Homo sapiens: one gene and its partners. The protein of the gene in region 1 interacts with the protein of each later gene in a biochemical or structural test. Each region holds a gene or a part of one and is shown on either strand. Other genes may lie near its edges.

Region 1 (7,098 bases):
CTCAAACTCCTGACCTCAGGCGATCCACCCGCCTCGGCCTCCCAAAGTGTGGGATTACTGGCATGAGCCACTGCGCCCAGCCTAATAATTCTTTAACAAGGGCCCAGGCTTTCACTTTGCACTGGGCTCTGCAAATTACCAGGCCTGTCCTGACTGGAGGCAAGGGCTGAACCCATCTGGTGGGGGAAAAGGGCCAAAGAGGAGGTCAGGAAATGCTTCATAGAAGGACCCCGAGGGAGGAGGTGAGTCGTGCAGGCAGGCCTGGGTGTGGCTATGTGAGACTGTGAGGTGGGAGTGTGTTGCGTGCGCTGGTGTGTGCAAGTGTGTGAGGTTGTGAATACGGTCCATGCGAGTGTGTGAGAGCAGGCAGCGTCTGCAGTGCGTGCAGGGGCATGTGAGTGAGGGCTTGTGAATATTTATCTTTGTGAGTGTGAGTGTGTGTGACTTTGGTTCCCATGAGTGTGTATGAATGTGTGTGGTGTGTGGGGGAGGTAGTGGCCAGGGCAGGGAGAGTCACGGGGCCATTTAGCAAATATTTATCGAGCACCTCCTCTGTGCCAGGCGCTGTGCAAGGTGCTGAGGTGAGTAAGCCCCAGCACTTGCCCAGAGGTGCTCACAGCCCGGCGAGAGAGAGAGATGTGTAAACAGACAACAGCAGAGAGAGAGAGCAGATTGAAACCAGACTCCTCAGAAATGCAACCCCTTCACCCACTTCCCCCAGGAGAAGCCAGACTTCCCCAGAATTGGTGGGACAGGTGGGGCTGTGGGATAAGCCAGGAACTGTCCCAGGGGGCCAACCCCAGCCCCTCCTCAGGCACACCCAAACACGACGGGAGGGGTGACCTCCCTCTGACCTGCTCAGCGACACACCCAATCCCACAGAAGCAGATAAGAGGTGACCAGCAGCTCCGGCAGGGCGGGATATAAACAGCCCGGCCCTGTGGCTTCCTCCCCACCCCCACTCCCCAGCCCAGGACACACCTGAGGGGATGCAGACTCTGGTGGGCGAGAGACCGGGCCGTCTCCTGCTAGGAGGCCCCTGGGCTGGTGAGAGTCGGGGTAAGGGTGACTGGTGCCCGACAGAGAGGGCAGCACGGAGGCCAGCCCAGGGGCCCGTGCCAGGACTCTGCAGCATCCTGAGGGGTGAGAGGGCAGAGAACTGTTGGGGAGAAAGGCGTCCCTCCCAGAGCTGCCGTCTTCCAGGCTGTCCCAGGCGCTGCCCTGCAGAGGCCACCTGCCCAGGTGGTCTCACTGAGCTGCAGCGTGGAGGCAGGCATGCTGTGAGCTGGCCCCGCTCTCACCCAGTCAGTGACTTCAGCCCACCACTAGCCTTGTCAGTAAAATGGGGACACCTGGTCTCCTCAGCGAGCTGTGGGGCGGATCAAATGAGATAATGGGATGAGGAAAGCGCCTCATAAACTGCAAATGGCAGGGCAAAGGTCAGCACGCAGCGGGCAGCACCTGCCCCCAGCCCTCCAGAAGAGGGTGAAGGGGCTGAGCGCCATATTCCCAGCCCTCCTCCCTGCTAGGATCTCCTTTAGAAGCTGAAGAGGCTGGGAGTCAAGGGAGGCTGAACAAGCATGTCCCGGGCTCTAGAGGCCCCTCCCCCACTTCTTGGCTAGGTGACTTCAGGCCACACTGGGTCACCTCTCTTCTTTTTTTTGAGACAGAGTCTCCCTGTGTCACCAGGCTGGAGTGCAGTGGCATGATCTTAGCTCACTGCAACCTCCGCCTCCTGGGTTCAAGTGATTCTCCTGCCTCAGCCTCCTGAGTAGCTCGGACTACAGGCGCGTGCCAGCATGCCCAGCTAATTTTTGTATGTTTAGTAGAGACGGGGTTTCACCGTGTTGGCCATGATGGCCTCGATCTTCTGACCTCGTGATCCTCCCGCCTTGGCTTCCCAAAGTACGAGGATTACAGGCGTGAACTACCGCGCCCAGCTGGGTCACCTCTTTTAAGGGTGCAAGGACCCCGAGATATTGTGGCTAGGGAAACTAGACCAGAGTCTAATGCATAATTTCCAAGAAATGGGGTCATTTTTAGACTAAGTAGCTGTGAAAGCTTCCCCAGCTTCTGAGGCTAGACCTACGCCCTGGCCCGCATCCCCTTTGTCTAACTGGCTCACACTTCAGAAGGGAAATGTAAGTAAAAGCCTTTTTCCAAATGGCTCCAGGATTCTGGTTTCTCTCATGACCTCACTTTCCTCTCCAATCAACTTCCCCACTCTCCTTTTCCACCATTCCTTGCTTCTCCAGAGCAAGCTGCATTTCCAGAAATCCACACACAAGCTTTAGTTTTTCTAAGATCCCTTCTTTATCCACATCACTTCAGCCAACAATCTGATTGGTATTTCCAAGACAACAGAGCAGTATTTCAAACTCATGAATGGGATTTTAATGTGCTGTATGGAATTTGAAGCCTCAAACTTAAGGAACTTTCCACCTGGAAAGCATTCTTAAGTAACATCAATGAACTGTCCTCCCTAAAACCTAGACACAGTATCACTGTGGAAACAGAGTAATAGTTCTGGAATCGATTGAGGATTAGGTTAGAAGCGCCCACACCAGGAAAAGCTTCCGGGAAACGGTTTTAGGACAGAATCAAGGCACACCTGTGGAACCTCTTTCTGCATCTGTCAAATGGGGACGCTGTGTCTCCTCTCTTCTTAGGAGAGGATTAAATGAGCCAGAGTGGGCTAGCACAGTGCCTGGCATGAGACTACAGTTTCACTGGGTGCTATACTCACTACCTGGGTGACAGGATCATTCGCATCCCAAGCTCAGCATCACACAATATACCCATGTAACAAACCTGCGCACGACCTCCTAAATCTAAAGTAAAAGTTGCAATTAAAAAAAAAAGAGAAAAAGACTACACTTTCAACAAATGCCAACTCCTTCCCTCATTCTTTCTCAGCAAGTACTCATCTCCATTTTGTTTTGTTTTTTTTTTTTTTTCCTTTACAAGATCCTAACTCTGATTTTGTCAGACTCAAAAGCTGGGATTCATATTACAGATATACAGTTTACAGCACACTTGGCTGGAATGCAAAACCATCTATTCCACAAGGCCAGCCATGCAATTCTAGACATCTTGAGAACATCAGGTCCAAACCCTAGCCTAATAGGAAAAATCAGTCCTAAACAGGACAGACTTGGTCAAGGTCAAGGTCACTCGAGCGGTGTCATGACAGCAGGATGCTTCTGACCTCAGTGTTCTGAGTTCATGTCCTTGCTTGCATGAAGTCTTGTAAGCGTTCTCCAACAGTCTCAGCTGCTTCCTTTGCTCGCCTCCCAGCCCAGTCCATGTGTCTGTAAGCCCACACCTGCTACAGGAAATCTGTAACTCCCCTCTTCGTCAGCCTTTGCCCTCACCCTCAGCCTGGTAGACCTTCATTTTCCTCCCCTCCAACCTCTTGACCATATTCGATCCAAAGGCCCAAATTTCAGTACACAGGTAGCTAAGACAAAGGTTAGAAAAAGCCCAGAAGGCACTTTATTGGAGGTCTCTGCCTCCATTCACAGGAGAAAGGAGCTGGGAGCCCCATCCTAAGGGTCCCAGCATCAGCCCACTGGAGGGCCTGGAACAGTCCAGCACTCTGTGGGAGAGGAGTGGGGAGGGGAATGTTTTAGAAAAAATAGATCTCTATGTACATCTGACATATTTATATAGCACATAAATTAGGGAGTGCTCTGACCCCTGCCCGTGGAGCCCAAGCACTGAGCAGGGAGGTGAACGCCAGTCCAGAAAGAAGGTGCTGGAGCCCCTGCTCTGTCCTCTCCATCACGGTGCTCCCCTAGGGCCTCCCCAGGCCTCCTTGGCTCAGTCCAGGTGTCTGCAGGAGGAAGGTGTTGTCTGCATTTAGTGTCTGAGACTGGGTTTGAGGAGGCACCAGATAAAAGGAGATACACTTGCAGCTATAAAGTCAGCTTCAAACCCCAGGGCTTGTAATTCCAAGAGGAGGGTGGGGAGGCGAGGCCATAGTCTCCGAGTCCCAGGACGATGGCTGACAATACACCAAAACATCAGCTTCTCTCCACAGCACAGCTGGGAGCATTCCCCAGTGGAGGGGCCATCTGGCCTGCCTGTCCTCCCAGGAAGGTTTGCAGGCCTCGAGTGGTCCGTGAGTTTGGTCCCGGGTATAGTTCCAACCCTCAGTTCCGACTCTGGAGAACCTCTTCCTCCTTCCAGCCGCTTGAGTTTTTGCCAAACTTGTAGACGAGTCGCCGGCCATCCACCCGTTCCAGGATCTCCCGTTTGTAGTAGTACCTGGGTGAAGAGAAGGATGGTCAGAGGTGCTTTGGCAGGAAATGGGCCCCAGGCTGCCAGCCCGCCCACCTGGCCCGCGTTACCCCCAGGTAACCCATGCCCACTGGTCTCTGCCTGACTAAGCTGAGCCTGACTCACACTTCCTAAACTCCTCTGTTCTTCACACTGGCAAGCAGAAGCTCTTTCCCTACACTGGCCTGTAACCGTGCCCAGGACACAGGGCTCTTTGCCTTTGCTTCTTTGTATCCTATGGCTGTGACTGGGGTCTGATCATTAAATTACATGACTTTTAAGGCCAGGGAGCTGGGCACGGTGGCTCACACCTGTAATTCCAGCACTTTGGGAGGCTGAGGCGGGCGGATCACTTGAGGTCAGGAGTTCGAGACCAGCCTAGCCAACATGGTGAAACCCCCGTCTCTACTAAAAATACAAAAATTAGCTGGGCATGGTGGCAGGTGCCTGTAATCCCAGCTACTTGGAGGCTGAGGCACAAGAATCACTTGAACCCGGCAGGCAGAGGTTGTAGCGAGCCAAGATTGTGCCACTGCACTCTAGCCTGGGTGACAGAGCGAGACCCTGTCTCGAAAAATAAAAAGAAGAAGAAGAAAAAAGAAAAGGCCAAGCATACTGGCTCACACCTGTAATCCCAGCACTTTGAGAGGCCGAGGCAGGAGAGTCATTTGAGGCCAGGAGTTTGAGACCGGCCTGGCCAACGTAGAGACCCTTGCCTCTATTTAAAAAAGAAAAAGAAAAAAAAAGTAAGTACATGATTTTAGGGCTGGACGGGATCTTAAGATGATCTAGTGTACTCCTGGACACAGGAGGAAACTGAGGCCCAGAGAAAAACAACCTAAGTGCTTCAACGAGGAGAAAGCCAGGCCCTGGGTGGGCACGGCTCCTGCCCCCTTTCCCACTCTCCAGGTGCCTTCCTGAGGACAAGCCTCACAGGCGATACAAGAAATGTTGCTGCTAGCTCAAGTGCACTGTGTCTGCTGTCTGCCAGGCTAATACTTTCTCCATGTTGTCATTTAATCCATGAAGTAGACCAACCCAGATGTTGTCCTCACTCTAAGGACTCAGCCCTGTTGCAAGAAGCCAAGTGGCAGCCAGAAAGAGGGCGGTGGGAGTGTGAGCGCCTGTCCCCATGTCCGGCTGTATCGTGAGGGTCCTGGCCGCCAGCTCACCTCATGGCCCGGCTCAGCTTCTCGTAGGTCATGTTGCTGTTCTTTTTCTTTTGGCCCCATAGTTGGGCCACAGCCTCGGAGCGCAGGAACTTGAAGACGCCTTCATGCCGATTCTCCCACTTCATGAGGCCCTCGTTGAGCTCCGGGTGGATGAGGATGTCCCGGATGAACTCCCACAGGTGGGTGCCTCTGGGCGCTGCAAGGCCAGCCTCCATCAGTTTGCCATCCAGGTGTCCCCTCTCACCCAAGGCCAGCCAGCCCTGCCCGCCCCAGTGCACTGCTGACTTGGCCACAGCATGCAGCAAGCCTCTCCAGAGACCCCGCAGTGCCCTCTGTGCGGGTACTGCAGTGACTGCTTTTCTCCTCAGCCCACCTAAGACCCACCAGCTGCCTCCTCACATTGAGGGTGTCCCAGAGGGCAGGACAGTGGCCAAGTGCAGAGAGAACTGGAGTCAGTGGACAGGACACTGGAGTCAGTGGACAGGACTCTGGTACCATGAGCCTCCCACTGGGAGCCTTATTTCCTCCTCCTCTCCAGGACCACCAAGCCAGGCTCTGCAATTAGGTGGTGACCGATACCATAGAGCCCCCAGCTTGTGCACAGCCTTACCAAAGGCCATGCGGAGGCCAGAGAAAACGGGAGAAGGGATACCTGCAACAACCCGCAGTGCCCCAGGAAGCCGCTCAGCCCGGCGCAGGGAGGACCCACGTGCCCCCGGAGCTCACCGTGCTTGCTCTTCTTGCCCTCGAGACAGTCCCAGTACTCTTTGCTCAGCTTTCGGGGCCGGCCTCGTTTCCGCTTCCCGTGCTTGGGATCCCCCTTCTTGCAGTCACGAAAACCATCTGTGGGGACGGTGGTGGAAGGTCAAGGAGGGGCAAGAGGGGAGTTAGGGAGAGTAGCCCCTCTACAGGAAAAGGCTGCAGGAAGAGCCGGGCCCCCTGTGCATTGCTAAATGGGACGCCCTCTTGGGGACCTCCCTCGACTCACCGCTGGGGAAGAGCTTGCCATCAGTGGGATCCAGGTCCACGTCACTTCCACCGGAGTCTGAGGAGTGGGAGCTCCGAGAAGCACCAGTCCCTGGGGGGCGGGGTCAGAGTAAGTCCCCTGCCGGCCCACCCTCTGCTCAACCACGCTGCTGGCTCTCAGGACACACTTCCCAGCCTGTTCCTGTTCCTGCCAGAAGGCCTGAGTTATGGTGCTGGGAGCCAGAGGGAACAAGGGACACTTCGGGGAAGGGAGGTTGTGGCCCAGAGAGAGCTCTCACCTGCGGTGGAGACGTCAGAGCTGCCAGGGGAGGGGGCTCCTGCGCCACAGCTGCCGGGGTGGTAGGGGCTGGCTTGCTGACCGTCGTCCAGCAGCTCCTGGGCAAAGGGGCTGCCCTGGTCTGGGAAGAGGAGGTGAGAACTCAGAGAGGGCTCAGGGGACCAGACCAGGACAGGTGATGCTGCCCATGGGTCTGATGACCTGCTGCAATTTTTCTAATTGAGGGAGGAAGAAGTCTGGGGAGGGGGTCATCTCTAGCACTCTGTGGAGGGGCAGGGATGGGACAAGACAGGCTGGGGAAGGAAGGAGAAAACGGGTTCTCACCAAAGGGCCCTGGGTCTAGGGCCTCCTGGAAGGCCATGCCATCCTTCTCCAGCAGCT
Region 2 (8,500 bases), on another chromosome or scaffold:
AAATAGAATGACATAGTATCTGCTCTTTTATATCTGGCTTTTTTCACTCAAAATAATGGCCACTTTCAAAAGACACTACAGTCATTACCCCCGAAGATTCCTTCATGCCTATTCCCACTCTACATCCTCCTCCCAGAAATAACCACTATTCTGACTTCTATTATCATATATTACTTTTGCCTGTTCTTGAATTTCATATAAATCAAATGAGACAGTATCTGCTTTTTCATATCTAGCTTCTTTCACTCAAAATAACAGCCAAACACTTTAAAAACACAAGACAGTCATGTGTCACATAACGACGTTTCAGTCAACGATGGACCGCATATGATGGTGGTCCCATAAGATTATGATGGAGCTGAAAAATTCCTATCACCCAGTAACACTGTAGCAGTTGTAACGTCATAGCACAATTACTTTGTTTTTTAATAAATGTACAGTCTAAGTGTACAGGGTTTATAAAGTCTACAGTAGCGTACACAGTAATGTCCTAGGCCTCGACATTCACTCACCACTCACTGACTCACCTAGAGCAACTTCCAGTCCTACAAGCTCCATCCATGTTAAGTGCCCTACATAAATATACCTTTTTTTTATCTTTTATGCTGTATTTTTACCGTATCTTTTCTATGTTTAGATATACAACCACCATTGTGTTATAATTGCCTACAGTATTCAGTACAGTAACATGCTGTACAGGCTTGTAGCCTAGGAGCAAGAGGCTATACCATATAGCCTAGGTGTGTAGTAGGCTATACTATTTAGTTTTGTGTTCACTCTATGACGCTCACATGACAAAACTGCCTAAGGATGCACTTCTCAGAACATATCCCCTTTGTTAGGCAACATATGACTATACAATTGTTTGCCTATCTTTTTCTGTTGACTTGAGGTCCTTGGAAGCAGAGATTGTCTCTGAATTCATAGTGCCTTGCACACAATAGGAACTCAGTTAAGACTTGCTGAATTCATTACACTGAGGGCAGCATATAAGATACAGAGAAGGATGAATGCAAGAAGGATAAATTCTGGCATCTACCTAGAAAAACAGGTCCTATCACAGTAGTAGAAGGATTTATAGTTTTGGGTCTTCCATTTTATATTAGTGCTGGTGGATCTCAGCACTAGGACAAACAGGGTTCATCCGGAAAAGCAGAGTTGTAATTTGGGAAGTTGGTTTTGTGCTAAGAAAAAAAACCGTTCTCTCACTGTCACTGCAGGGGTATTTTTAGCAACATGGTCAGCTAATGGCATCTCTCTCATATTAAGCATAATTCTGCCAAATCTCAAGTCAGTCTCACATAACAACTCCAGATGGGTGAGGGGTAAAGTGGAGAAAGAAGAACAAGGTTTATGAGAGGCAAAAAAAAAGCAAAATCATATATGCCGGCACACACACTTTAAAGTCATTTCTCCAGGGAAAGAAAATGCCCCTACTAACCCTTGTCCAATCTTCTCAAACCGTGTATATTTCTTCTTAGGATCGCCCACACTCACTATGCTTCCTTTGAAAGAAACAGAGACCATGAATCATTTTTTCCCAAATCAAGATACAAAAAAGGTTCCACATTTCCCCAACCCCTGTAGCTGGCAAGGGTTAAAGAACTACCTCCAATAGCCAAAAAGCATGCTAAACAGGCCCTCAGCTTTTCCCCCATAAGTCTCAACCAAAAGTTTCATCACCTTGACTGCTTTGATTCATAGTAAGCTATTCCATTTCTAAACTCCTAAAAGTCATTCATTTTTTAATTAATCCATTCAGTAAATATTTACTCATTTAATACGCACCAAGCCATATGTTGTGTTAGGAATGAAGAGATATGACACAGTCAAGGCAGTCCCTGCTCTCAAGAAGGTCAATTTCATGGAGGAGACAGATAAGTAAGCATAAAGTTCCATGAAAATATAATAATTGCTGTGATAAAAGCCAAAGGGGTACAGAAAGAGGCACACACACACAAAAAAAAGACTGGAAAAACTTCAGAAAGGTGATATATGGACTGATTTCCACTTTAAGTAAAAGCCAGAGAGATAAAGTAGAGAAGAGGTTTACAACAAAGAATATTTCAAGTGCAACGACATAGAGGTTTTCCACTGGGTTTTATAACTTGTATTTTAGAGATGGAGAAATTGAGGCCCACAGAAGGGAAGAAGATACTTCCCCCCCAAGGTCACACAGCAAATTGGTGTCAGAGCTAAGATTAGGAGTTTCATTTTTAGTCTCCCGGTCCAATGTGCTCTCCATTAATACCCAATTACTAGGAATTGGTACTTTTCACATATATTACCTCATTTGATTTGCAAATGAGACAAGTATTAACATCCCTATTTTAAAAATGAGAAAAATGAGGTTTAGAGAACAGTAGAAAATTGCCTAAGACACAAGTCAGTGGCTGAGCAGAAGCTTCAACTCAAGTGTCCTAACTCCCAGGCCAAGTCTTAATTCTAAGTCATAATTCTAAGTGTTATTGTTAAAACAAAACAAAACAAAAAACTCTGGTTTAGAGAACAAGACTACATACAGGAGTAAACAGATGACTAGGTAAGTGGCTTTTCTTACTTTGTCATTTTATGAGGGATCCAGAAAAGGGCAATTTTTAAAACAGTGAAAATTTGTTTTAAAGTCATATAGGAATTAATCAGGAAGAACTAGAGAACCACAAAGCAATGCCAGTTTGCAGACGTCGCCAAATCGGTCACATCAAATCCTTTTTGGAAGTAAGTAGATACAGTGAATAAATTAAAGCCCTTGTCAAATGATTCTTCCAAGCCCACAGATCAACCTAGTTCTTCCTTCTAACATGAATTCTTCTGCAGTTTACTGAAACACAGAAATAAGCTACCCTAACATACCCCCATTTCTGGCAGCTAAAGAAAGTAAAATGGAAGTTTCCACTTGACAGCAAGAGGCAGTATGCTCTACTTACAGGAACAAAAACTGTGTTCTAACCTCAGCCATGTCACTTTTTAGCTGCGTGATTTTGGGCAGGATATTTAGCCTCCCTGAGCCTCAGATATCTTCATTGCAAAAATTAGGATCATAATGCTTTTCTTCACAGGGTTAATAAGAGAATTAAATTTAAAAAAAATCAAGAAAATATTTTGCTTGTCATTTGATACATACTATAGGTTCATAAAATGTTAACTTCCCTTCCCTCTTTTCCTACAACCAAGATGGCAGATGCGTCTTCTCCTAGGTCAATGGCAAAACATCAATAATTGATCACAGTGCCCTTTTCCACTAGGTCCTCAGTCTTTCTCAACATGGCATTCTAGGCTATTCATTAGAGAAAAACTATTTGTCTTCGCTATAATACATGCCTAGGGGTGAGGGATGCCCTGCCCTCAAAGTAAGCTATCCACACTCTCACCACATCTCCATCCTAACATAGTATCCAACCAGGGCTGTGAGACAGGGAAGGGAGGTTCAGGGGCAGGGTGAGGAGAAGCAGTCTGTGCCTAAGGTACCAAGCATGGCCAGCCAGCTGCATGGACCAAGCCTACGACCAGCAAATCTCTGTGCTTGACCAGTCATAAAACGAAGAAAGGTTCAGAAAGCTACAAATTCCTTACGTAATTTCTCCAAGATCTCCTCATCAGACATTTTAGGCTTCTTCTTCTGCTTCTCAGTATTCCGGGTCAAAGCATCTGGTGGAGTGGTGTTATTTTCAGTAGGTGAAATGGGAGATGTAGCCACGTCCCGAGTTGGAGTGACAGGAAGTGGTTCAATCACAGACCGTGTGTATACCTGCATTATTAGTGCAAAATTTTGGCAAGACCAGCCTTTGTTAGCATAGGGGAACCTCTCCTAGATGTGAGGTTAGAACATCCACAGAGCAAACCCCAATAAACTCATCCTTTCTCTTATGTCAAAATCTATATTACTCCTCCTCTGTGCCCAGGCCCACCCATTCTGGGTAAAATGGCCTTCCTTACTCTCACTGTAAACAAAAGAAGTGAGAGTCTCAGCACTAAAGATATTCAATAGAGGCTAGACAACTATCAAAAGAAATTAGTTAAAGACAATTCTATTAGATAAGAATCCCCTTCATCTGTAATATTTTATGCTTCCCCAAGCTAAAAGAAATATCCTGTATTCCCCAAGCTAAAAGAAATATTCTGTAACAAAAGAAATTAGTTGAAGACAATTCTATTAGGTAAGAATCCCCTTCATTTGTAATATTTTATGCTTCCCCAAGTTAAAAGACATATCCTGTAGTAATGCAAATAGCACTTTGCATTACTAGTACAACACCAACTTCTATTGAGTTACTCCCTCCTTACATCCTGAACCCTTGCAGGGAAGGAACTACTTTTGTTCTTCATCAAGAGGTAGTAGAGTGTGATGATTTAGAACATGGACTCTGGAACCTGACTGCCTGAACTTAAATCCCAACTCTTATTATTCTTACCTTCTGCATGACTTTGGGCAGGTTACTTAACTTCTCTGTGTTTCAGTTTCCTCATCTATAAAATGGTGATAATAATGATAACTATCTTTTGGGGTTGCTGTAGGAGTAAACTGATTAATATGTGAGGTAATCAGACTCATCCCCAGCAGACATTAAGCACTCAAATTTTACCTTTTAAAAATATTAAATGTCCTATTCATTCATTTACATAACAAACATTTACTGAGAATCTATTTGTTGCCTCACCCTGTACAAAATGCTGCCCCAACCTCTCATTCTTATAAAGGAGGTGAGAAAATCATAACTACAAGGCAGAAAGTGATACATGTTATAAAGAAATAAGCAAGCTATATACTACTGAGGTTCAGAAGTGATCATAAATTATACTTCCTTTCCCCAGGAGATGCTTCAAGGTATTTAACAGATTTTATCATAAAAATATCACAATTATCTTTTGCATAGTCCATAAACAGTATAAGGACAGGGAATGTGGGTCATTCATCCGTGAGTTCCTCCATCTAACCACTTACTAAAAGAAAGCAAGCATTCAGGTAAATATTTGATGGAATAAATAAACAAACAGGATCCTGCAACTGGATCCTGAAGGACGGATAGGTTTCTACAAAGATAGAGGATCATTTATCTATGATGATCATTTATCTGCGATGATGCAAAGCCATTGGCAACAGTGGGACTCAAACCCATGGCTCCACAGAGACTAAAGCCAACTACATCCTGCACCTTGGACTGCTTGACCATGCTACCTTTTGACTGGACAGGCTTTTAATAGGTGGAAATGGGAGAGAACATTCCAGTAGTGGGAACAGCAATAAGCCAAGACGCTGAGATCAGAGGCAATGGCTTCCTTCCTGATTACTACTCTAGCATAATGATTTCTCAATTTTCTATTCTTGTACCTGTAGACAAACTATATCCCAGGCACCTAAACCTGTACTTCCATGCCTTGTCCTCTTTTGCCTGTCCTGATATATCTCTTTGAAGACAGAAACCTTGCCTTTTCCTTCTTTAATAGTCTCCTTCTCTGGCTCCTAGCACAGGTTTGTACACACAAAAATACCACTGTGCTATGGTGGAAAACAACCTGGAGTTGGGGTTAATTACCTGCTTTCAAATCCTGGCTCTTTTGTTTACTAAGAGACTGGGCAGATCAATTCACCTCTCCAAATCTCAGCTGCTTCTTCTATAAATTAGGAATTACCAATACCTTTTTAGAAAGAAATGCTATGAAGATCAATTAATTAATTAATTCAATATTTACTGTCCTCTGATATTTACCCACCTCTGCAGGTGCCAAGAACTATGTTAAGCACTAGAAATACATACATATGGATTTCCTCTACTTTTTGAGGTGTTCATGGTTTAGTGGGGAAAAAAATGTTTTAAATGAACATGTCTACAAACCAAAAAAAACCATATCAGTGTTAACGACTCTCCAATTTTGAAGCGCATTTTCCCTTGAGGTAACTTTGTGACCTACAGAGATGATTCCACAGATTCTGTTTGTAAGTTCTCATCCTAATAGGTCATATAATTCCTTTGAATTTCCTCCACAGCATCTCCAATAGTCATTCAACCAATTTCTGTTTGAACACCTCCCTGAATGCTGTATTCCAGAGGTAGCCCTTTTTTTTTTCTTTCATGATCACAGAAGTGCTAGATGGTTCCTTCATTATGGAGCTCTCATCTTAGTAAAAGACCTAAACAAAGAAACACTAGTAGAGTATCATCTGATGGTAGGTCAGTGCTCAGTGATGCCAAATTAAGTAAAAGGCACAGGGACTAGATGTTTCAAAGCAAGGTTAGAGGGACCATGGCTATTCTCAGAGATGCAGGAACCTCAAAGGAAGTTAAATAGAAATCACTGCCAACATCCGGCATCAAAATGCACTCCTGATGCCCAGCATATTAATAGCACTAATGTATTTATATATTCTCTTGGGTCTTTCAATATTATCAATAATGCTCTAAGAGGCTGAACACTGCACATTTAACAGAGAAGAAAAGATCTGTAGCAAGACAATTTGTTGCTTCCCTGGAGACTGGAATAATTTATGTTAGTCCTGCACTAAGTAGCATCAATCCTATATATCTTCCTGTCCTATCTGTGGAGAACCGAGACTGGACTGGTATAAACATCAATTACCTAGGACACTTTGGGACTATCTGCAAACCAATGATAAATAAACACATGATTTTTTGTCTTTAATCATACAGAAAGTACCTTTAGTCAAGGTAGTTCAGTGATTTCACCAGCTCCAAAATCTAAGGACGCCTACCAGAATATTAAACTTCTAGGTATCAGCACCAACTCCTCCCTCTCCCCACTTACTCTAATAAATCACAAAACTGGCCAGGTCCCCAAAGACTCACAGATTTTGTGTGCTCTGGGCGTGGAGCAATCACTGGTGGTGGGGTAGCATCATCATCATCATCATCCTCATCTTCTGAAACTGGTGGCACTGCAGGAGTCTCAGACACAGCCTTCACATTCTGTGCAAAGAAGAAAAGCAAGATGCATCTGGTCCAGCTGCCATGGAACTTAACTATCAGGATCACCAAACCTCCCACGAGAAACCCCATCCTGATATCCCTTCTGAAATACACATTAGCCTCCAAGCTCTCACCTTTGTGTAGCTAGTCTCAGAAGCTCAATCTGTTTCTCCCTCTTCTTTTAGCCATCACTATCCACTCAGTCCCTTGGGGCTTCCTTCTCCCACTCAAAGCCTAGCTGTGAATGGGAAGCTAGCTTACAGCTTTTCTACCTGCCTCTCCCCCAACCCAACCCCTGAAGACAAGCTCACAGTACCTTCTTATTCTATGAATTTTTCTCTCCACACTGAACAGGAAATAAAGTATGAAATGTAGGGAAGAGATCAAAAGTTTCTAATTTTTCAAAATTCATCACTATAATTTCTTACTCTCTCCTGATATGGTAAATGGCAGTCTAAACAGGCTTTTGCCCTGCCCTTTTCCTCTCTTTGCAAAAATCTCCTGAACCCATTACATTACCAGGGGTCCTCACCTCAACCTGAAGATAAAGAACATCAGCATCAGGATCATGTTATCTAAAGAGAACAATGAATTTCTCCCCAGACTGGATACTATTTCCCTAAGTTTCTGCCCTACCCTGGAATGGAACTTACCACTAATTAGATCTGCTTACAATCTGTGACAACCTGATTTCCCCATGCAAACTATAAGAGAGCTGGGCCAAGAGTGGCAGGTTTTAGGGCAGGTCCAGGCAAAAATAGCATACCATTACTGTTTATTACACAGAATTAAGAGACAAAATGCCTCCAAAATATGAGATTTTTGATAGATACCAAATGATTCTATCATTTGATCAGCAAAGAACTGGAGAGGCAATGGGGATCTTTTAATATATACTGATATAATTCAACAGTTTCAGGTATTTTCAGAGCACCTACTTTGTGCTCAGTAAGACTGTGATAGGTACTGTTGACATAAATGTACAAAGATGAAAAAGATGGTCCATGTCCTAAAGTAGTGACCATCTGGTATAGGAGATAGACAGGATGAGAGCCCCTCCTGCCTGACACCTGGAGCCTCCTAAGAGGAAGGTCCAGAGTCAGAATAACGGGATAAATGGAAGAACTAAGGAATAATATACTAGAGGTACTGACTGTGGGAGACTGTCTTTTACCACATTTGACATACTAAAGTAAGAAAAACTGGCATAGATTTTAACAGGGCCTCCAGCACAAAGCATAAGTTAAAAACTGACAGTGCCGGGCATATATAAGCAGTTGTGGTGACCATAGGCAATAAATCTGTCCTCTTGGTTTGAAGTTTAATCACCTGAGGAATGTGAAGGAAGAGGAGTGTTATAATTTGAAAGATGACCTTAAATCGCTTTAAGTTCCAAAACTCAATAGAGGTCCTTTCCCTGTCAAAATATGTATTTCGATATTTTTCTGCTCTAATTTATTTTCTCCCCACTATTCCACTCAACAAAATTTAACTAAAAACCTAATGTGGGAATACAGTTGACTCAGCAAGGCTCTTCATCATCAGGTAGCCCTGGAGCTCCCCTGATGTATACTGTA
Region 3 (5,554 bases), on another chromosome or scaffold:
ATTCCTAATTTTTAATAATATCTACATTAATAAATATAACATTAAATATTTTTTGAGAGACAGGGTCTCACTTTGTTGCCCAAGCTGGAGTGCAGTGGCATGATCATAGTTCACTGCAGCCACAACCTCCTGGGCTCAAGCAGTCTTCCCACCTCAGCCTCCTGGGACTATAGGCACTTTGCCGGCATGCCTGGCTAATTTCTTATTTTTCTGTATGTAGAGATGGGGTCTCACTATATTGCCCAGGCTGAACTCAAACTCCTAGGGTCAAGTGATCCTCCCACCTCAGTCTCCCAAAGTGCTGTGTGAGCCACTATGTCCAGCTAAATGTAACATTATTAAATGTAAATACGACAGCATCAGTTCTACCAGAATGGTGCTTTAAGTACAGCAAAATTCCAAACTCTGAAATTTTCACTTTTTCTTGAACAAATTTTGATGCATCTTTGTTCTTATACAAATTTCTGACATACTACATATGAAAAATGATCCACTCTCAATGGGTATTATACATTTTATTTAAAGACTTCAAAGTAAAAAAAAAAAAAAAAGGTACAGAAATAGATTACATTATGATGACCACAGTAGTATTCTACATGACAAAAATAAAAACAGATTTAAGTAAATGTACCGGCACTGAACAAGCATTTACTTAACATCCAATCCAGGCTGCATATGCACAAAATGATCTGACCACATGCTTATGCAAAATAAAGTTTTTCTTAGAAAGCCAAAATTCCAACCATTCTGACTGTCCGCTGCCTATTCCCCTGTTGAGTATTTTGAGCGAACTTCTATAGAATATAAGAACAATTGGCATGGCACTTAAAGACTGCAAAAAACAGAACACAATTAAAAACATTTATAATGCATTTCTGTATAAAATACACACCGTAAATCTTATTAGTTAAAAAAAGATTTAAAAACAAAAGACCACCCTGAATAATGGTTAAAACCTCATCATAGAAAAATGCTCATCATTTTGTACACTGAAAGAAACTACTGAGAGGTTTTTTGGGGGGCTGGTGGGAAGGTAGATACCTAACTTAAAGATTCATTCAAAATTTGCTTTAAATTGTGGGTAATAACTCACTGCTTACCCCTTCTCAAAATGTTTTATCATGAATACTCTAATATTTAACCACAGGACAAACATAAAGAATAACCTGAAGAAGGTATTTCTCAAAGTGAGGTCGAAGGCCCCAAAAGAAGTCTAAGGTGGGCTCACTAGTGTGCATTTTAAACCAACTTCCTAGGTGATTATTTCACATTCCAAAATCTGAGAACTAATGCCCTATGGGAAACAGCACCACTTAAAAGCAAGGCCATAAACATATTTCTGACATGAGATACAGAATTCTAAGTTTATGATTTGAAGTGAATACTGCTTTTTGTTTTAAAACAAGTTTCAGGTGTTAAGAGAAACATATTAAATAAACATGTGGATGTATATAAACATTTTCCTTTGACGTTTTCATTGCTTTCAGACTTATGTTATTTGAAGGAAAGAGAGTATATAGCTAGAAACTTTGGAAAAATGACATTTCCAATGAAATGCAGCATCCACCCCTCCAAAAAAAGATAATTTATTAAATGCCTACAAATTTTAAAACATTTGAAATTTAAACTAGATAACTTTCCTAAAATTTTTACTAAGATTAAAAAATTTTAAGTAATTTAGATAATCATGTTTACTTTTTAAGTCCCTTTTCATTAAAAATATATTTAAAATAAACAACAGAAGGATGCTATATTTGGCACCCCTTTAAATAATAAGCTGCTGAACACTAATATCCATAAAAAATAATCCGAGGAACTCTGCCTCTGAAATGTATTCTACTATGTATTACATGTGTTATCTAGTTAATAAAAACTCACTGAAAGAGCTGATACTGTGATGTGTGTGAGTGTATGTGTGTGTCCTGAACATTTATTCATGCCTACTTTATTTTTCTGATTTCACTAAAGGGTCCAATCATATAGATAATGTGGTTTAGGGGAAGAAATGAGCATAATTAAGATACCCTACTTAAAAAATAAATACTTTTCCTGTATGCTAAATTATAAGGAAAAAATATTATACATTCTGCCTCCACTGAATACATGGAATGCTTTTACAAGTTTGGTAACAATAATGAGTGCCTCATTTGAATCAAGTCACAAAAAGCAACTGTGGGGATTCACTCTCCAATAGGAAATAAAAATATTACCAGTGTACTTTTCTGTATCTATTTTAAATTTCTGGTTTTTTTCCTTTCTATACACTGAGTAATTTTCCATTCAACTGCATCCTTGGTCTTTTGCAGTGTATATATTAACACTGCAGTTAAAGTTTCCAATAAAGGGAAAGGCTCAGGAGCTACCCTGTTAATATACTTAAAAAGAAAAACCACTTGTGCCAGTTTTGCAAAAATAGTTAATGATTTGGAATCTGATTCATAATAAAAAGTGTCTTTTTTAACTCAAGAAGAATTTCCCAATTTGGTTTTTGTTTGAGACCGAGTCTCACTCACTGTTGCCCAGGCTAATCTTGGCTCACTGCCAACTCCATCTCCTGGGTTCAAGCGATTCTCCTGTTTCAGCCTCCCGAGTAGCTGGGATTACAGGTATGTGCCACCATGCCCAGCTAATTTTTGTATTTTTAGTAGAGACAGGATTTCACCATGTTGACCAGGCCAATCTCAAACTCCTGACCTCAAGTGATCTGCCCGCCTCAACCTCCCAAAGTACTGGGATCACAGGCATTGAGTCACTGCACCCAGCCGAATTTCCCAATTCTAAGCAAGCAGCATCTTCTATTACCAATTTAATAACTGCTGCCTTAAAAAAGATCAATAATTTATTTATCCAAGGCAATAAAATTTACACCTGAATTTTTAAACATAAAGAACTCCAAAACTAATAGGTAATATAAAAAGTTGTTGCATTTTATATTAATCTTTTATTTCAAAATTAAACCCTGAAATGATTTAACACAGAATGACAAAAATTATGGGAGGTTTATGATGTAATCCCACTATGTGCCTTAATGCAACAGATACTTTTTTAATGCAGTGTTTTTTTTTTTTTTAAACAAAAAAGATAACTTCATTACTCATCTGTAGGCCTTTTAAAAACTGAAAAACCAGTTCAACTAAATTTTGACATGATTGTCTGGAAGCTAGTAGTATTAATTTTTTTTTCATAGTAAAACAGATGTAATAATTGATTCATATAGTCTACAAGAGAAGATATTGGGTGTTTTTTTGTAGGTGGCAAATATAAAATGGTTAATTGTATCCAGGCTTGCAGCAAGTTTATCCATGCATTAAATGGCAACATGAGTAGAATACATGGTTGAAAAATGAGGATCAGACACATTCTTCTGCAGACATCAAAAGAGGATTGATATACTCAAAACCTTCAAATTCAGACTGATCAATCTTCCTCACAATGTCACTGTTGAAAGAAAAATAAATTTATTTTCATCATAATCAAGATTTCTTCAACCTTTAAATGGTAAAATAAGATTAAAAATCAAGTAATTAGGCTAATTGTACTGAAAGGAAATCTATAAATTTTTAGATTAATCCCCCAGATTTTCTAGACGAATCAAGAATGGAGTACTGAAAATTTAAAAAACCCCGATAATCCCACAAGCAAGTTTAGAGCCAAAAAGGAGTTCAAAACTGAGGACTGCGAATAAAAAAGACACCAGTTGTCACCATTCCAGTTAATCTTAACTTTTGACCAGAACAACATTCCTAGTTACAGGTGAACATCCAGGTTTGAATTAGCATTCAATTTAGTAGTCACCTCAACAGCCAGATGTTAGATAGTGTAGCCCAGAAGAAGTTAGCCAAAAGGAAAAGGCAATAGGAACAAGTACACTGAGAGACCTGGAATGAGGAGAGAACACCGCAGGGAGATCATGGGTCACAGAGAGGGGAGAGGTTGGCATTTTGTTACACTGGGCTTCTACTTTAATATACAGTGAGTAGTGCTATCAAATATTTAATACATAAATGTATTATGCCATACTAAGAAGCACAAAGTTACAGAGGATACAGTCCCTTCCTTCAAGGAAGGGAGGTAATTCCTACTGGAAGAGAAAGCAGTACTTGTTAAATTTTATACACAATAAGCTAAGTCCTGTTCTAACCATGGTTCTAAAGAAAGGTGTGACTTCTAGTTGGAGAAATCAAGGAAGGCAGTATTCATTCTGCAAACACTTAATGAATGGAATGATGAAAGACTGTGGTAGGTCTTGGGAAATGCAAGTAATTAGGGTGGAGCACAGGAATAGAAGTGTGTTAGATGATGCTGAAGAAAAATAATGGCTAAATCAAAGAGGCCAGTGATGTTTACACTAAGGAGTTTCACCTTGATCCATCAAAGATCTGGTTGCATCTGAGGTGGCTCTGAAAGATGGGAAAATTTCAATAGGTAAAAATGAAGGCGGGATACACAGGAATGAACAGGCAGAAGCAGAGACAATAATACTACTAGGGAATGGTGAGTAGCTAAGACTGATCAGAACACTGTTTGTATTATGGTGAGAGGTATCGCTAGAAAGTCAGGCTGGAGCAGATGTGGGGAGGCCTTAAATGCTAGCCAAGAGGATAGATGTTACCTGATAGGCAATGAAGGAGTTACTGAAGGTTTCTAATTAAAGGGGTTCAAGAATTGGAGTGGTACTTCACAAGGCATACAGAATAGGTTGCAAAGTGAAGGAGTAAAGATCAATTAGGAGGCTGATACAATACTCTGGGTATGACTTGAATGAGGCCTGAACTAGGGTGTGTCAACGGGAAGAGAAAAGAAAGATCTGATGTAAATGATGAAATAATGAAAACACAGACAAAGACTTGGCAGCTGCAGGTATTATGTAATCTGTTAAGAAAAAGGAGGAGTCCACAATCACTGACATCTGGAATCTGAACAACAGGGACACACCGTGAGCAGAATTAGGTAACTAAAAAAAAAGGAACTGATTGAGAACAATAGAAAGAGATCATAAAGGGTCATTACTTTCATTTTAGACTTCATATATTTGAGCTGCTTGGCTGACAAACTGGGGGCCGTGTTAAACAGAAATGCAGCTCAGGAGATCTAACGGCAGGGGATAAGTGCTTCAGAAACCATCATGCATTTATTCTTCACAGCAACCTTATGAGGTAGGCAATTTGAGAACAGGCTCAGAGAAGTTATGCAATTCCTATCCAAGGTTACCCAGTTGGTAAGAGGTGGCATCGGGATTCAAACTCCTATCTTTTGATTAAATCCAGTGTTCCTTCTAATACACAATGCTGTCAGAAATAATGACTTGGTACACATCTTTCTCCTCTAGTAGACAGCACGCTTTTGGGGAGATCAGACTGTCTTGATTGTCTTTGAATGTCTAGTATTTACCATAACACCTTTTGCTCAATAACCATTTGCCATTTAACTGAGAGCCATTTAATTAGCTGGTATCTATGCTACAGGGCTGGCTGAAATCTCCAAGGTACAAACTGCATATAGCAAAAAGAAGGCTGTCATGAACAGAACCATGGAGCATCCTGGTCTCAAGGGG

The links. Proteins that work in one complex are often made in the same cells at the same time.
Region 2: the proteins of ELF3 (region 1) and PAK1 form a complex in vitro, tested with the Homo sapiens proteins (one study listed by BioGRID).
Region 3: of the proteins of ELF3 (region 1) and PRKCI, one has a biochemical effect on the other in vitro, tested with the Homo sapiens proteins (one study listed by IntAct).

The regions. Positions count from the first base shown.
Region 1 is NC_000001.11:202,012,380-202,019,477, reverse strand, and holds the end of ELF3 (ETS-related transcription factor Elf-3), read right to left. Parts: coding exon 7,042-7,098; intron 6,839-7,041; coding exon 6,719-6,838; intron 6,628-6,718; coding exon of another isoform or gene 6,578-6,627; exon of another isoform or gene 6,532-6,577; coding exon 6,442-6,531; intron 6,297-6,441; coding exon 6,180-6,296; intron 5,650-6,179; coding exon 5,454-5,649; intron 4,270-5,453; coding exon 4,155-4,269; 3' UTR 2,295-4,154; downstream 1-2,294. UniProt on the Homo sapiens protein: Transcriptional activator that binds and transactivates ETS sequences containing the consensus nucleotide core sequence GGA[AT]. Acts synergistically with POU2F3 to transactivate the SPRR2A promoter and with RUNX1 to transactivate the ANGPT1 promoter.
Region 2 is NC_000011.10:77,352,095-77,360,594, forward strand, and holds part of PAK1 (serine/threonine-protein kinase PAK 1), read right to left. Parts: intron 6,924-8,500; coding exon 6,804-6,923; intron 3,749-6,803; coding exon 3,574-3,748; intron 1,506-3,573; coding exon 1,442-1,505; intron 1-1,441. UniProt on the Homo sapiens protein: Protein kinase involved in intracellular signaling pathways downstream of integrins and receptor-type kinases that plays an important role in cytoskeleton dynamics, in cell adhesion, migration, proliferation, apoptosis, mitosis, and in vesicle-mediated transport processes.
Region 3 is NC_000003.12:170,300,924-170,306,477, reverse strand, and holds the end of PRKCI (protein kinase C iota type), read right to left. Parts: intron 3,439-5,554; coding exon 3,351-3,438; 3' UTR 501-3,350; downstream 1-500.